Regions from separate parts of the Homo sapiens genome. Here region 1 is linked to region 2. Evidence: fine-mapped expression QTL. Tissue or cell type: transverse colon. Region 2 holds a variant in brackets; the other region holds the start of a gene. All regions are shown on one strand. Distances are from middle to middle.

Region 1 (8,108 bases), 610 kb after region 2:
TGGGTTCAAGCAATTCTCCTGCCTCAGCCTCCCAAGTAGCTGGGATTACAGTTGTGTGTCACCACTACATCTGGCTAATTTTTTTGTATTTTTAGTAGAGATGTGGTTTCTCCATGTTGGCCAGGCTGGTCTTGAACTCCCGGCCTCAAGTGATCCATCCACCTCGGATTCCCAAAGTGCTGGGATTACAGGCATGAGCCACCCTGCCTGGCCTGTTTCTTTTGTTTTTTTTTTACATGGTTGTGCATTGGTTATTTTCCTGAGCACAAAAGTGATGATTACCCAATACCCATCAGTGTTTGGTACTTAATAGGCTCTGAATACAAATTTCTCGAGTTAATAAATACATGCTCATTGTTGAAAACTCAAAAAACACAGAAAAGAGGAAAAAATTAAAATAATTTAGAAAAACCTCTCAACCAGATGTAATTACTGTCTATGCATTGGCGTACATCCCTCTAGTTATGTACATAGTTGGGGTCATGCTGAATGTTTATCATTCTTTTTTTTCATAACATTATTGTCAGAGATATTTGAACCAGAATAACTCCATCTCGAATAGGGGCTGGGTAAAAGAAGGCTGGGCTGCATTCCCAGAGGGTTAAGTATTCTAAGTCATGGGATGAGATAGAAGATTGGCATAAGATACAGATACAGATCACAAAGATCTTTCTGATAAAAGAGCATGCAGTAAAGAAGGCAGCCAAAACCCACCAAAACTAAGATGGCGACAAGAGTGAACTCTGGTCATCCTCATTGTTCATTATACACTAATTGTAGTGCATTCGCATGCTAAAAGATGTTTCCACCAGTGCCATGACTGCCAATTTCCAGAAGTTACCCTGTATAGTCTAAAAAGGAGAGGAACCCTTAGTTCTGGGAATTGCCCACCTCTTTCCCAGAAAACTCATGATTAATCCACCCCTTGTTTAGCATATAATTAAGAAATAATGATAAGTATCCTTAATCAAGCAGCACATACTTCTGCTCTGCCTATGGAGTAGCCATTCTTTTGTTTCTTTACTTCTCTAATAAACTTACTTTCACCTTACTCTGTGGACTTGCCCTGGTCCTTCTTGCACAAAGTCCAAGAACTCTCTCTTGAGGTCTGCATTGGGAACCCTTTCCAGTAACATTATGGCATAAGAATTTCTCATGTTATTAAAATAGTTTTAAATAATTGTGATGGCTATACAATATTTTGTCTTATGGGTACAATGTAATTTTACCGTTGTTGGCTCTTTCTGCTATTTTCAATTTTTTTTTCCTATGATAAAATGAAGACAAAGTCTATAGAATAAAAAATACAGTGACTAGACGTCTGGAGACATAGGAACACCTGAATATAGAATTGTCTGTATTAACCTTGCTTGTATTCTCATTTCAGGAGAGTGAGCTCTCAACAGGGTCTACTAAAGAGAAAGCAGAGGGTAACAAATTGTCAGCTTGTCTCCAAAGCAGTGTGAGAGTATTCTAATTTTGATGAACCATCCCAGAAATAGTTTGAAGAGAAGTATGTAGGTATTTCAACAGACTTATTGGAAGTACTCAAGGGCATTCAACTCTCATTTTTCTAATTCTGGGATCATGCTGCTGAGGTATAAATTTATGGCTAACTGATTTATAAATTAACTAGAACATCCTGTGCAAAGATTTGGTTCTTTAGCCAAATACAGACTAGGCACTGGTTCATAAATTAATCCCTCTTAGGTGGCTGGTGTCACTTCCCAGAAGCATGATAACTGTGGCACAAATAGAACCAGAATGGCCAGGTGTGGTGGTGCATGACTGCAGTCCCAGATTCCTGGGAAGCTGATGTGGGAGGATTGCTTGAATCCATGAGTTCTGGGCTGTAGTGTGCTATGCCAGTTGGGTGTCTGCACTAAGCTCAGCATCAATATGGTGGCCTCCTTGGAGCAAATCACCAGGTTGCCTAAGGAGGGCTAAACGGGTCCAGGTTGGAAATGGAGCAGGTCAAAACTCCTATGCTGATTAGTAGTGGGACCATGCCTGTGAATAGCTACTGCACTCAAGCCTGGGCAATAAGCAAGACCCTGTCTTGGAAAAAAAAATATACCCGGAATGCAGTATTTCTAGATTTATAGAACACCATCATGGTTTTGATAATAACTGGTGAAGCCCAGCCTGGGAAGCAAGATAACTAGCCTCATTCTTTCTAAAAACACTTCTTTGCTGCATTAATAACCAACAGAGGAATTCAACTCCTTGGAACCTTCCTTCCAGGATGCATACAGGTGATGGTGTAGTGATACCTGTGAATTGCAACATGACTTTTTCAGTCTCAGTACTGTATCTAGTTCATGGTATAATCTTGGGAATGTTAAGGATGCAACTGGGAGCTTCACTAAGTCCTCTGGATTCCCTGGCTACCACTAAGCATACTAAGACATAGCCTAATTGTCCCAAAGAATTAACAGAGTTGGGTTTCAATCAAACCTGTCACCATTGTTTTAAATTATGGGCTCTAATAGAGCTGGCATTGGAACTTGAAAAGAAACTCATGTAATTATATTCTTCTAATGATATAGCAAATGAATTTTTGCTTTTAGAAAAAATATTGGGTAGTGAAGAGCCACATTCTTTTTTATCCACCTAAACTGATTACACACACTTAGCAATGGAACAAAAAATTAAAGGTATAACAGGTACCAACTTCATACAAAATGCACACACACAGAGGATATATAAATGTGTGTACACATACACATATGTTCCTTGGCCCCTGTCTGCTGTTGATAAATCAAAATCTAGATAATAGTGTGGTTTTGTCTTGAACATTTCTATCTGAATGAAAACAACACAGTGTAGGAGTTCCTTGCCCTCGCTTTGAATGCTTAGGACAATGCAAATTGGGGTTTCCCAGCATATTGCAACCGAATCCTCTTCAGGCCCTGTCAGCTGTGCTCCAGACAATGCCATCCCCAAAGACAGAATTGCTATGGTTCATAACAGTGAAACCCACAGGACAAGTGTCCAAGAGTTTCACTCCTTTCTTTTGTGGAAACAGCCTCCACCCTCAGGCAAAGAGGAAACCCAGGGTTGGCCTTGACTAACAGCTTGCATAGGTATGGTGGAGCCAGGGTGTTTCAGTAAGGGTGGTGTGGTCATTTGCCTCTGCATTTATAGTAAAAGAAAACTGATAATGGAGTCCCAAGAGACAGCAGTCAGGGAAAATATGAAACATCAAGTCCAAGAGAATGAGCAAAAAGCAAAGCCAAACTTTCTGGTGGAGGAAGCAGTAGGGTGTGGGGTCGGGATTTTTTTCTAAGTGCACACCCCTGCAGCAGAGTAACCAGCCAGAGCTGGGGGAAAAATTAGGATAGCTACCTGTTAGGCATGTAGGGGTGTGTTTGCATGTTTAGTACGGCATAAATTCTTCAAAGACCTGATGGTCTTTAATATTCCAACCAACTCTCGTTTCCCCATTTTGTCATTAAATTAGCTTAAAGAGGAACTTGTAGCTTTTAGAGAACTCATGAGTTTTCCGCTTCATCATCTGCTTCTGTTTTCTCCATCTTAGTTTGCCCAAAGCTTGCTGGCCGCTGTGTAGGGCTGGTGAGTGGCTGGGGCTGTCTGAGCCATGAACAACTTCAGGGCCACCATCCTCTTCTGGGCAGCGGCAGCATGGGCTAAATCAGGCAAGCCTTCGGGAGAGATGGACGAAGTTGGAGTTCAAAAATGCAAGAATGCCTTGAAACTACCTGTCCTGGAAGTCCTACCTGGAGGGGGCTGGGACAATCTGCGGAATGTGGACATGGGACGAGTTATGGAATTGACTTACTCCAACTGCAGGACAACAGAGGATGGACAGTATATCATCCCTGATGAAATCTTCACCATTCCCCAGAAACAGAGCAACCTGGAGATGAACTCAGAAATCCTGGAATCCTGGGCAAATTACCAGAGTAGCACCTCCTACTCCATCAACACAGAACTCTCTCTTTTTTCCAAAGTCAATGGCAAGTTTTCCACTGAGTTCCAGAGGATGAAGACCCTCCAAGTGAAGGACCAAGCTATAACTACCCGAGTTCAGGTAAGAAACCTCGTCTACACAGTCAAAATCAACCCAACTTTAGAGCTAAGCTCAGGTTTTAGGAAGGAACTCCTTGACATCTCTGACCGTCTAGAGAACAACCAGACGAGGATGGCCACCTACCTGGCAGAACTCCTGGTGCTCAACTATGGCACCCACGTCACCACCAGTGTCGACGCTGGGGCTGCTCTTATTCAGGAGGACCACCTCAGGGCCTCCTTCCTCCAAGACAGCCAGAGCAGTCGTAGTGCCGTGACCGCCTCTGCTGGACTTGCCTTTCAAAACACCGTGAACTTCAAATTTGAGGAAAACTATACCTCGCAGAATGTCCTCACCAAGAGCTACCTCTCAAACCGAACCAACTCCAGGGTGCAGAGCATTGGAGGGGTTCCTTTTTACCCAGGCATCACCCTCCAGGCCTGGCAGCAGGGTATCACCAACCACCTGGTGGCCATCGACCGCTCTGGCCTGCCGCTGCATTTCTTCATCAACCCCAACATGCTACCTGACTTGCCAGGCCCCCTGGTGAAGAAGGTGTCAAAGACAGTGGAAACTGCTGTGAAGCGCTATTATACATTCAACACCTACCCTGGCTGCACAGATCTCAATTCTCCCAACTTCAATTTTCAGGCCAACACGGATGATGGCTCCTGCGAGGGGAAAATGACCAACTTCTCTTTCGGTGGGGTTTATCAGGAATGCACTCAGCTCTCAGGGAATAGGGATGTCCTCCTCTGCCAAAAGTTGGAGCAGAAGAATCCACTCACTGGTGATTTCTCCTGCCCCTCTGGCTACTCCCCGGTGCACCTGTTATCCCAGATCCACGAGGAGGGTTACAACCACCTGGAGTGTCATCGAAAGTGCACTCTCCTCGTCTTCTGCAAGACCGTGTGTGAAGATGTGTTCCAGGTGGCAAAAGCTGAATTTAGGGCTTTTTGGTGTGTGGCCAGCAGCCAAGTACCTGAAAACTCAGGACTGCTTTTTGGGGGCCTCTTCAGCAGCAAGAGCATAAACCCCATGACAAATGCACAGTCATGCCCAGCCGGCTACTTTCCACTGAGACTCTTTGAAAACCTCAAGGTATGTGTTTCTCAGGACTATGAGTTGGGAAGCAGGTTTGCGGTCCCCTTTGGCGGGTTCTTTAGCTGCACAGTTGGGAACCCCCTGGTAGATCCTGCTATATCCAGAGATTTAGGGGCACCGTCTCTGAAAAAGTGCCCCGGGGGCTTCAGCCAGCACCCAGCCCTCATCAGCGATGGATGCCAAGTGTCCTATTGCGTCAAATCCGGGCTCTTCACAGGAGGGTCCCTGCCCCCTGCCAGGCTCCCACCTTTCACCCGGCCACCCCTCATGAGTCAGGCTGCCACCAATACTGTCATAGTGACCAATTCTGAGAATGCGAGATCCTGGATTAAAGACTCCCAGACCCACCAGTGGAGGCTGGGAGAACCGATAGAGCTGCGGAGGGCCATGAATGTCATCCATGGGGATGGTGGTGGTCTGTCAGGAGGGGCTGCAGCTGGGGTCACAGTGGGGGTCACCACCATTCTGGCTGTTGTTATCACCTTGGCCATCTACGGCACCCGGAAGTTCAAGAAGAAAGCATATCAGGCAATTGAGGAAAGGCAGAGTTTGGTTCCAGGCACTGCAGCAACTGGAGACACCACTTACCAAGAGCAGGGGCAGAGTCCAGCTTAAATCTCTCCCCGAAAATGGTTTCTCTCATCTCCAGTGTGGTCATTGCTGACCACTCTGTTTTCCTAAGCATTGAAATGGCAAGTGCAACCAAAAGTAGGTATATTCGTGACTTCTTGTTTAGGTCTCTGGGCCAGGAAATTCATACTGTTACATGGATAAGGTTGGGATTGGGGAGAGGGAACAGTTGGGACTAGAAGCAAAAGTGATTCTGGGACTAAAATAGGAAGCAGATGTCCTTTCCCAATGTGTGTTGCTGTCTTCACCTGAATGCATTTGTGTAAAAATAGCGGAGGGACAATGTGAACATTTGTATTTGGAAGCTATGAATTTACTCTGAAGTTTGCAGTTGTTTCCAATTTGTGAGCTCTAAGAGTTTCTGCCTGTAAGAACTACTCTCCTTTTATTTTGATTTTTAAAAACCTGTCTGAATTTCACACTCTTAGAGCCTGGAAGAGCCCTGAAAAGACACAAGTCTTGCCTGGCTACTGCTTTTTAACTTTGAGGGCTCTATGTTGACAGACTGTTATCTCCTCTGGGTGACCTCAAACATCTGAAAAGAAAGATGTTGCCTGTGCCAATTCCACTTTTTCCAGCTGCCCCTTGATGAACACTCCCTTATACCAGACCACTCTTGGACTTCTGACTGGTGTCATCAAGTCCTCAGAAAATATTTTAAGTTATTTTAAGTTATTAAGGAAGGGATGATTTGGAGACAAGGAGTAATGAAAGATGGGTAAAAACTGGAAAAGATTCTGGTGCTAAGTACTACCCCTTCATCTTCCATGGATGGTCATTACCTTTCCTGTCCTCCTGTTATATGAACACACACACACACACACACACACACACACACACACACGCACACACATACCACATTTCAATAAGTCTTCATTGTTCTGGGTCCTTACCTTTCCTGTCCTCCTGTTATATGAACACACACACACACACACACACACACACACACGCACACCACATTTCAATGTCTGCATGGTTCTGGGGGTAACAAAGGCAAGAAGTTAAAGTAAGACCACATTTGAGTATTACTTACTCTGTAGAATCAAAACAGAGTAGTTAACACCAATTATGCAAACTACTTTTTTTTCCAGCAGAAAGGGAGCTGACATGATCAAATCCATGTTTTCAAATGAACTGAAAAAGGCATCCAGCACCACTTATAACACATTTATTTCAGTTCCAGGCTGACAGCCCTGGGGCATCTAGCAGGATGCATAATTGTCATCTGGTGAGAGTTGGGACTTTGCTCAATTTTAATACCAATCTCTCCTGATTGTAATTACCTCCACTACTTTCATGATCCCCCTACAATATTTTTTTAAATGATATATTTATTCACTGAATCAAATGTCATTAATGAGTTATCTTCTGTGGAGGATGACTGTTCTCTTTGTTAATGTTCACAATCAAGATCTTGGGCTGAGAAGAGGCCCTTCACCCAAGGAGTTTGAAGTATCACAGTGTGTGGGAAGGTGGGAACCAGGATACCCATTCATTTCCAACCGAGACACAGAGAAGTGAGTCACAGAATTTGAGCCCGCTCTCTTGACTGCCCAGCCAGAGACACTGATTTCTGTAACCTCTTCACTTGATCCTGCCTCTTAAGCATTAAAACATTCTCCTAAACCTCTGAGTGTTTTGTGGGTTCTGGGTGTTTTGTACATTTTAGCCAAGCTAACCACTTGTCTGCAAGTACTGACTTTCCTATGAATTCTTTGAAGATTATTGAGTCAGAAAGGAAAAATATAGCCCCAAATTCCCAGGCTTTTAATGCATTACATTAACTGCCTATTGAAATGAGAAGTTCTTCACAAACTTGTATACCCACTAACAAGATTGCACATAAACATGCATTAAAGTATATACTAAGAAACCCTCTGTCCAACGGCTCATGCATATGAAGTCCGAACATGGGAGTTTGCCAATTGCATTCATCAAGTCGTTTTGCGGAGTCAGATCCCTGATGGAAGAGCTCACAGGCTCTGCCTTCCAAGTCCTGGGTTCCTAACTGGTGACCTTAGCCTGGGGTCTGTGGGGAGACCAACCCTGGCTTCCAAGAAAACCACATTCCATGGACTATCAGAAATAGACACAGATTTGGGTGACAAAGCTGGCTCTGTATTTGCATTTTATTTTTGTGTTCTTGTCAGTTTGGGAATGATTAATATTAAACATTTATTTGAGAAACAACAGCCTGTAAATAATTTAAACACACACTATATTGCAGCCAGGCAAAGAGACCTTTAAAAGTGAATATTCGTGATTCTAAAAGTGTTTTTCTCCCACACGTTCACTTACTCATTTTCCCAGCAATGTGGTCTGTTCCTTTAGGCAAACAAAG
Region 2 (8,108 bases):
ACAATGTAGCACCAGTCTCAGAGCATGTGAATGGAAGAAAATGTCAAAAGGAACTCCCGAAAGCTGTGAGAATTTAGTACATTATAAAGTCACATATTAAGGCCAGGCCCGGTGGCTCACGCCTGTAATCCTAGCACTTTGGGAGGTTGAGGCAGATGAACTATTTGAGGTCAGAAGTTCAAGACCAGTCTGGCCAATATGGTGAAACCCCATCTCTACTAAAACTACAAAAATTAGTCAGGCATAGTGGCATGCGCCTATAATCCCAGCCACTCTGGAGGCTGAGGCAGGAGAATCACTTGAATCTGGGAGGCGGAGGCTGCAGTGAGCAGAGATCACGCCACTGCACTCCAGCCTAGGCAAAAGAACAAGATTCTGTCTCAAAAAAATAAAAAATAAAAATAAATAGGCCGGGCGCGGTGGGTCACGCCTGTAATCCCAGCACTTTGATTGGCCGAGGCAGGTGGATCACAAAGTCAGGAGATCGAGACCATTCTGGCTAACACGGTGAAACCCCCTCTCTACTAAAAATACAAAAAATTAGCCGGGCATGGGGGTGGGCACCTGTAGTCCCAGCTACTCAGGAGGCTGAGGCAGGAGAATGGCATGAACCCGGGATGCAGAGCTTGCAGTGAGCCGAGATCGCGCCACTGCACTCCAGCCTGGGCGACAGAGTGAGACTCTGTCTCAAAAAATAAATAAATAAATAAAGTCACATATTAAATGAGAATTTTCAACTTTGAGAAAGAATTATGTTATATCCCTACCTCTGGCCTTTATAAGCAGTATCAATATATTTTGAATTATCAAAGTAAGTCAAATATTAATATTATTATTAATATATTTGACTTATTCTTTTTCTTTCTTTTTTTTTTTTCTGAGACAGGGTCTTATTATGTCGCCCAAGCTGGAGTGCAGTGGCACAATCACAGCTCACTGCAGCCTCAGCCTCCTGGGCTCAAGCAATCCTCTTGCCTCAGCGTCTCAAGCAACAGGGAGTACAGGCATGAGCCTCCAAGTCTGGCCAATATTTTATTTTTGTAGAGATGGACTCTTGCTGTTTTGCCCAAGCCAGTCTTGGACTCCTGGGCTCAGGCAATACTCATCTCAGCCTCCCAAAGTGTTGGGATTACAGGCATGAGACACTGCACCTGGCTGAAAGTCAAAATTCTTAAGACTATTACTGACAGATTTTACTGCATAAAAATTATAAATGGTCCTACTTCAAAAACAATCAAGATATATTGAAAACTGAAAAAAATGAAAATATACAACCAGCTGGGCACAGTGGCTCATGCCTGTAATCCCAGCACTTTGGGAGGCCGACGCCAGTGGATCACCTGAGGTCAGGGATTCAAGACCAGCATGGCCTATATGGTGAAGACTCGTCTCTACTAAAAATACAAAAATTGGCTGGGCCTGGTGGTGGGCACCTGTAATCCCAGCTACTCAGGACGCTAAGGCAGAAGAATCACTTGAACCTGGGAGACAGAGTTTGCAGTGAGCTGAGATCACCCCACTGCACTCCAGCCTGGATGACAAGAGTGAAACTCCGTCTCAAAAAAAATAAATAAATAAAAATAAAACATATACAACCTAATAGGAGGTAATATACTTAATACATAAGCAATTTTGAATTGATAAGAAAAAAAGCAAAATAATTAAAAAATGGACTAAGTATACAAGCAAATCACACATACAGAAAACAAATAGACAAAAATATGTGAAATCAAGGACATGAGAAAAAATTTGACATCACTTATCATTAAGGAAATGCAAACTAACCTATAATCAGTATGTAGGTTATATTAAGTAAAATTCAGAGAACGTCATCAGAAATCAACTTTAGTTTACTACTGGTTATCCAAATCAACTCTGTGAGGCTGGGTTGGGTTTGATTTTTTGTGTGTGTTTTTTTTTTTTGTTTGGTTTTTGTATTTTCTCATTACTCTCTTATTTAAAACATAAAAATTAAAAAGTTGTGTTGTCACTTCTAATCACAGAAAACATTCTCACTTCAGGACCTAAAACGTCTGATTCTGTGTAACAGTCACAACTCTGAATTCCATTTAAAAGAAAAGTGACTCTCCTCCCCCAGCTCGGCCCTGCTTCAGACAAAGAGATAATAGTAAAAACAAAATGGGGAGCATGGGGTGAACCTGTTTCCTCATCTTGCACTTTTACTAATCAGGTAAGATCTTTCCTATCCCCAGTCTCTCACTATTTACGATGCCTCTGGGATGGTGGCACCTGATGTGAGCTGAATAGGATCCCTCAAAAAATATATCATCTTGAAGACCTAACCCCTAGCACTTCAGAATGTAACCTTATTTGGAGACAGTATTTTTACAGTGGTAATCAAGTTAAAATGAGGTCATTAGGATGGGCTCTAATCCAATTCGCTGAAATTTGCATTCACACAGACAGACATATACAGAAGAAAGATGATGTGAAGAGATGTAGGAAGAAGACGGTCATCTCCACGCTAAAGAGAGGCCTGGAAAAGATCCTTCCTCACAGCCCTTAGAAGCAGCAAGCAACCCCACAGACACCTTGATTTCAGACTTCCAGCCTCCAGAACAGTGAGGCAATAAGATTCTGTTGTTTAAGCCGCCCAGTGTGTGGTACTTTGTTTTGTGTTCGTTTGTGTGTTTGTGTATGTGTTTGTTTGTTTGTTTGTTAGAGACAGGGTGTCACTCTGTTGCCCAGGCTGTTCTTAAAGTCCTGGACTCAAGCAATTCTCCCACCTCAGCCTCCCAAAGTGCTGGCTTACAGGTGTGAGCCACTGTGTCCAGCCTGTGATACTTTGTCATGGCAGCTCTAGGAAACGAATACAGCACTCAGCAGTACTTTCCTTCTTAAAGAAGAATTCATAAAGCACTCATGAGAGAAAGAGGGTGCTTTAATAGTGATATCCTGTCTCTAAACAAACAAAGTACCATACACTGGGTGGCTTAAACAACAGAATCTTATTGCCTCACTGTTCTGGAGGCTGGAAGTCTGAAATCAAGGTGTCTGCAGGGTGGCTTGTCACTTCTAAGGGCTGTGAGGAAGGATCTTTTCCAGGACCTCTCTTTGACATTCTGAAGTACAAGGGGTCAGGACTTCAAGATATCAAATGTTTCACATGCACAAACACACACACACTCGGACACACACACACACCTGCTGTGGATCTCTCATCTGCTGTTCCCTTGATGCAGGCAAATTCATCTCTGCTGAGTTGTTGGCTGGTTGCACACAATTCTTCCCTCAGGCCCAGGACATCCATCATCACACCTACTCCAACTTCTTTCTCCCTGTCTTTGATGCAGTTCTGTTGATGTAAGAAACCCTACCTTGGCACTCTACACAGGAGTCCACACCTAGTCATGGAGTCCACACCTAGTCAACAGGACATGCATGCCTTTGCCCCACCATCAATGGAAATGTGGCTACTTCGCAACTGCAGCTCTCTACTTTTGATGCCACAGGCAGCTTCTACCAGCCTCCAAACATATCATTTTCTCAAGCCAGTGTCAAACCCCAAAGCCCACTGTCCCTTAAACTGCAGAAGAATTATATTAAACTCTCTGAATGATCTAGAAATGTCTTTCACTGGGCTTGATGGAGCACCCCCCAACCCTTGCCATTGAAGAGGGGAAGGCATGAAACTCACAGTACACCAACAACTGTGTTAACGAAATCTTTATTATAATCTCCAGTCTCCACTTCCTTTCTTGGCTTTTCTAGTGTTTTTTACAGGCTGGCAGAGAATGGGCAGCTAAAAATAGCAAAGCCAGTTCCTACCACCTGCTGCATAAACTGCCTAAAAGGCCCAGCACCTCACTGTGAAATGTGGAGATTACCTTGTGGTCCCAAGCAAAACTGAGGCAGAAACAATCGCATTTTAACAACCTGTTATAAATGTAACACCGAGTGGTGTTTTTCACCTTTCATATTGGCAAAGCCGTAGAAAAATTATAATATCCTTCTTTAGCAAGGGTGTTGATCAAGAAAACACTCTGATCATGGAGGCCAATTTTGCACAACTGTATAAAGTCAAAAGACATAAAATGAACATTCCCTTTGATCCATAAATTTCTCCTTTTGAAAGTGCCCAAAAGAAATACAAAATAACAAAAATGTACAAGGCTGCTTATTGCAGCATGGCCTATAATAACAGATTTGTAAATAATTTAACTGAGCAGCAATAATGATTCATTATGATGAACACATTCATAGAAATACTTTAATATAGCCCATGAATACTGAGACAGAAAACAATAAGATTAATTGGCATTGTTCTTTCTTCTTGGTCACACAATTAAAGAGTTGATGCATTTTTTGCACCTGTTGACTTAATAGATGAGAACAGCTGAAATGGCTTTCTTGTAAAACTTCAGTAACTCTTCCAGTTGAGACTGAATTTAATTTACCTTGAAACCTCTGGAATAAGTGTAGACACATTAATTTTGCTCATGGCACTATAGTAGATGCTCAAGAGATGTTTGTTGAATGAATAGACACTTGAATGGAAATCCCAGCTCTGTGCAATGATCTTAATAATCTTAATGATTTCTGTGTGTTATATCCACCATTATCATGTACATAATAGGATTCCAGTAAAATAATCTATGTGCATGTGAAAGTCCTTTGTAAAGAGTAAATCATGCTAATATGTTAATGGTTAATATTTTATTAGAGAATATTGTTTTTTGTTCTGGCAAAATCTATGGTATCATTGCCCTTTTACAAATGCTCTAAAGCATGTAGAAGCTAATTTTTTTTCTTTTCTTTTCTTTTTTTTTTTTGAGATGGAGTCTCACTCTGTCACCCAGGCTGGAGTGCAGTGGCACAATCTCGGCTCACTACAACCACTGCCTCCTGGGTTCAAGTAATTCTCCTGCCTCAGCTTTCCGAGTAGCTGGGATTACAGGTACGCACCACCACACCCAGCTAATTTTTG[T/C]ATTTTAGTAGAGACGGGGTTTTACCATGTTGGCCCCGCCGGTCCCGAACTCCTGAGCTCAAGTAATCCACCCACCTTGGCCTCCCAAAGTGCAGGGATTACAGGCATGAGCCACCACAATCGGTCCGTAGAAGCTAAATTGATGAGGAAACTAACATTAACAAGTCCCTTGAGGAGCTCTGCACACTTGGAGTGAAGAAGTTTCAAGGTAATTTATTATGACATTGTGGTTACATTTTGATCAGCAAAAACCCAAGTGGTGTATTAAAAGATAGTGTACATGCACATGCATGCATACACAAACACACACACACACACACACACAGTTTTTTGAGGAACTTCCATCCCATTTTCTACAACAATAATGTACTAATTTTCATTCCCACTAACAATGTACAAGAGTTACATCATTTTCTCCACATACTTGCCAACGTATTATCTTTCATCTTTTTGATAATTGCCATTTTAACAGGTGTGAGGTGATATCCCATTGTGGTTTTAATTTGCATTTCCCTAATGATTAGCGATGCTTAGCATTTTTGCATGTACCTGTTAGCTCTTTGTTGGTCCTCTTTTGAGAAATGTCTGTTTAGGTCCTTTGCTTATTTTTTAAATGGGTTATTTGTTTTCTTGCTGTTGAGCTGAGTTCCTTATACATTTTTAATATTAACCCCTGCTGTTTAATTTGTAAACGTTTTCTCCCATTCTGTCTGTTGTCTCTTCATTTTGTCAGTTATTTCCATTGCTGTGTAAAAGCTTTTTACTTTGATGTCATCCCATTTGTCTATTTTTGCTTTTGTTGTCTGTGCTTTTGAGGTCATTTCCAAAAATTCATTCTCACGCCAATGTTGTGGAACTTTTCCTGTATGGTTTTGTGAAAGAAAAATATCTTGGGCCCCCAGAATCACTAATCTAAAGGGAAAAGTCAAGCTGGGAACTGTTTAGGGCCAACCTGCCTCTCATTCTAATCAAAGTCACCCCTCTGCTCACTGAGATAAATGCATATCTGATTGCCTCATTTGGAGAGGCTAGTCAGAAACTCAAAAGAATGCAACCATTTGTCTTTTATCTACCTGTGACCTGGAAGCCCCTTCCCCACTTTGAGTTGTACAGCCTTTCCAGACTGAACCAATGTTCATCTTACATGTGTTGATTGATGTCTCATGTCTCCCTAAAATGTGTAAAGCCAAACTGTGCTGTGACCAACTTGGGTACATGTCGTCAGGGCCTCCAGAGGCTGTGTCACAGGCACGCATCCTCAACCCTGTTAAAATAAACTTTCTAAATTAACTGAGACCTGTCTCAGATTTTTCAGGGTTCACATTTTGGTAACCACAGGGGGATTCTGAGTGGAGGTGCCTCTTACCTTTGACAAATCTATCGGTCCTTGGTACCAGCATGAGCTAACTTAATGGCTCAAACCAAAAGGACAATTTGCTGAGGTCTGGGAGCACCCCCTCCAGAGAATCCCTGATCTCCCAAAATTTGGTCAAGATCTAAAGTTTATTTTGCTGTATAAACCCCCCCCCCTTTTTTTTTGGAGTTTTACTTGCTTCCAACACAAGGAAGGCAAGTTTTTCCTGCTTCCATAACAATGGAAGGTAGGTAACTCCTTTATGGAATTTGAGCTACTTCCAACAGGGAAGATGAAGGGGGTTTTTTGCTGCTTCTAGGATAGTAAAGAGCAGTCTTCAGCCTGAGAGCCACCCCTGGGTAAGTAACTGAATTGGGATTTGTCTTGGATAAAGTTAAAATTAACAACCAACTGGTCTTAATTTCTCCTTACCATTAGAGTGCTCAGTGATCACATAAGTTGTGCGATCACTTGTTTTGCTTAACTGGTTTTTGTTGTTGTTGTTGTTGTTTGTTTCTGTTTTTGTTGTTGTTTCAGTCTTTTCCCACTGGGTGTGACCAATTCTATCCAACTTGATCAAATCCAAGGGAATGTTCCAAATTATGGGGAACGAGGCCTCTGAAGTGGCTAAATTCCCATAAAAAAAAAAAAAAAGAAAAGATTTTTTATTTTGACTACTTAAGGAGCTTTATTTACATAACAAGGCCACCCTTTTGCTAGCCAAGCCAAACTGAAAGAGCAATGGCTGTACTTCTGAAAGAACAGAAATACAGTAATAAGATTTAAAAACATCTATTTTAAAAGGAGCTCAATGGTTAAAAGTCACCCTAATTAGAAGCTAACATCCAAGATGTGTATATGTATGTGTGCAGGTGGATGTGTTTGTATTTAAAAGGCCCTCACATTTTTGTTTTGTTTTTCTCCTAGGACCCTGTCTTTTTTTGAGCAAAAGTTTTTTCCCACTCAGTTGACTGAATTCTGGTTTCTTCATTTACTTCTGTCTCTCCTTTATCTTGCCCCCTCTGCTGCATAGGGGACCTAAAATAGTTTAATAATAGCCTGGGGTTCCTTAAAGAAAACTGAGAAAGTGCCAGACTCCCTTTGGGGGAGAAACCTGTTTTTCTTATGGGACCCCAAGAACGTAAACAGACAAGTTCATCTCAGCTCTTAAACTGTTTGCTTTTGTATTGTGTTACCTGTTTTGTTTTGGTTTTTTTGACTAAAATAGTTAACTGCAACAGAGCTTACTCTGTTTTTAAGGAACAGCGTGGTTTAGACACTAAGATATGTGTTCATTAAAAAAATTTTTTTAAGTGCACCATAAAAGCATCACATTGTCAAACCTCATAAAATGATCTCTCCAAAACATTTTAATAAAAGAAAAGGGGGAAAATGTGAAAGAAAAATAAATCTTGGAACCCCCAAATCACTAACCTAAACGGAAAAGTCAAGCTGGGAACTGCTTAGGGCCAATCTGCCTCCCATTCTATTCAAAGTCACCTCTTTCCTCACTGGGATAAATACATATCTGATTGTCTCCTTTGGAGAGGCTAGTCAGAAACTCAAAAGAATGCAACCATTTGTCTCTTATCTACCTATGACCTGGAAGTCCCCTCCCCATTTTGAGTTGTACAGCCTTTCCAGACCAAACCAATGTTTATCTTACATATGTTGACTGATGTCTCATCTCCCACTAAAGTGTATAAAATCAAACTGTGCTCTAACCACCTTGGGCACATGTCATCGGGACCTCCTGAGGCTGTGTCATGGGCACACATCCTCAACCTTGTTTAAAAAAACTTTCTA

Alleles and levels. Positions count from the first base shown, and alleles are read on the strand shown. Sizes are in standard deviations (SD) of each study's normalised expression.
For the expression in transverse colon of the gene that starts at base 3,540 in region 1, C is the low allele of the variant in region 2 and T is the other (moderate effect, 0.45 SD a copy in GTEx).

The links. PIP is the estimated chance that this variant, and not a neighbour inherited with it, causes the effect.
Region 1: MPEG1 starts here. The variant in region 2 is fine-mapped to the expression of MPEG1 in transverse colon (GTEx, PIP 0.94).

What each region holds. Positions count from the first base shown.
Region 1 is chr11:59,208,359-59,216,466 of GRCh38, reverse strand. It overlaps MPEG1 (macrophage expressed 1), which reads left to right and starts at 3,540. Exons shown (of 1, transcript NM_001039396.2): 1 at 3,540-7,957. The coding sequence starts at 3,602. The coding sequence ends at 5,752. It overlaps DTX4 (deltex E3 ubiquitin ligase 4), which reads right to left. Exons shown (of 9, transcript NM_015177.2): 9 at 7,879-8,108. It also overlaps the pseudogene RN7SL42P. RefSeq lists an enhancer at 3,364-3,563.
Region 2 is chr11:59,814,441-59,822,548 of GRCh38, reverse strand. No RefSeq gene overlaps it. Among named protein-coding and RNA genes, the nearest start is that of MRPL16, 7.7 kb to the right of the region's middle. The variant T/C (reference allele first, on the strand shown) is at 4,949.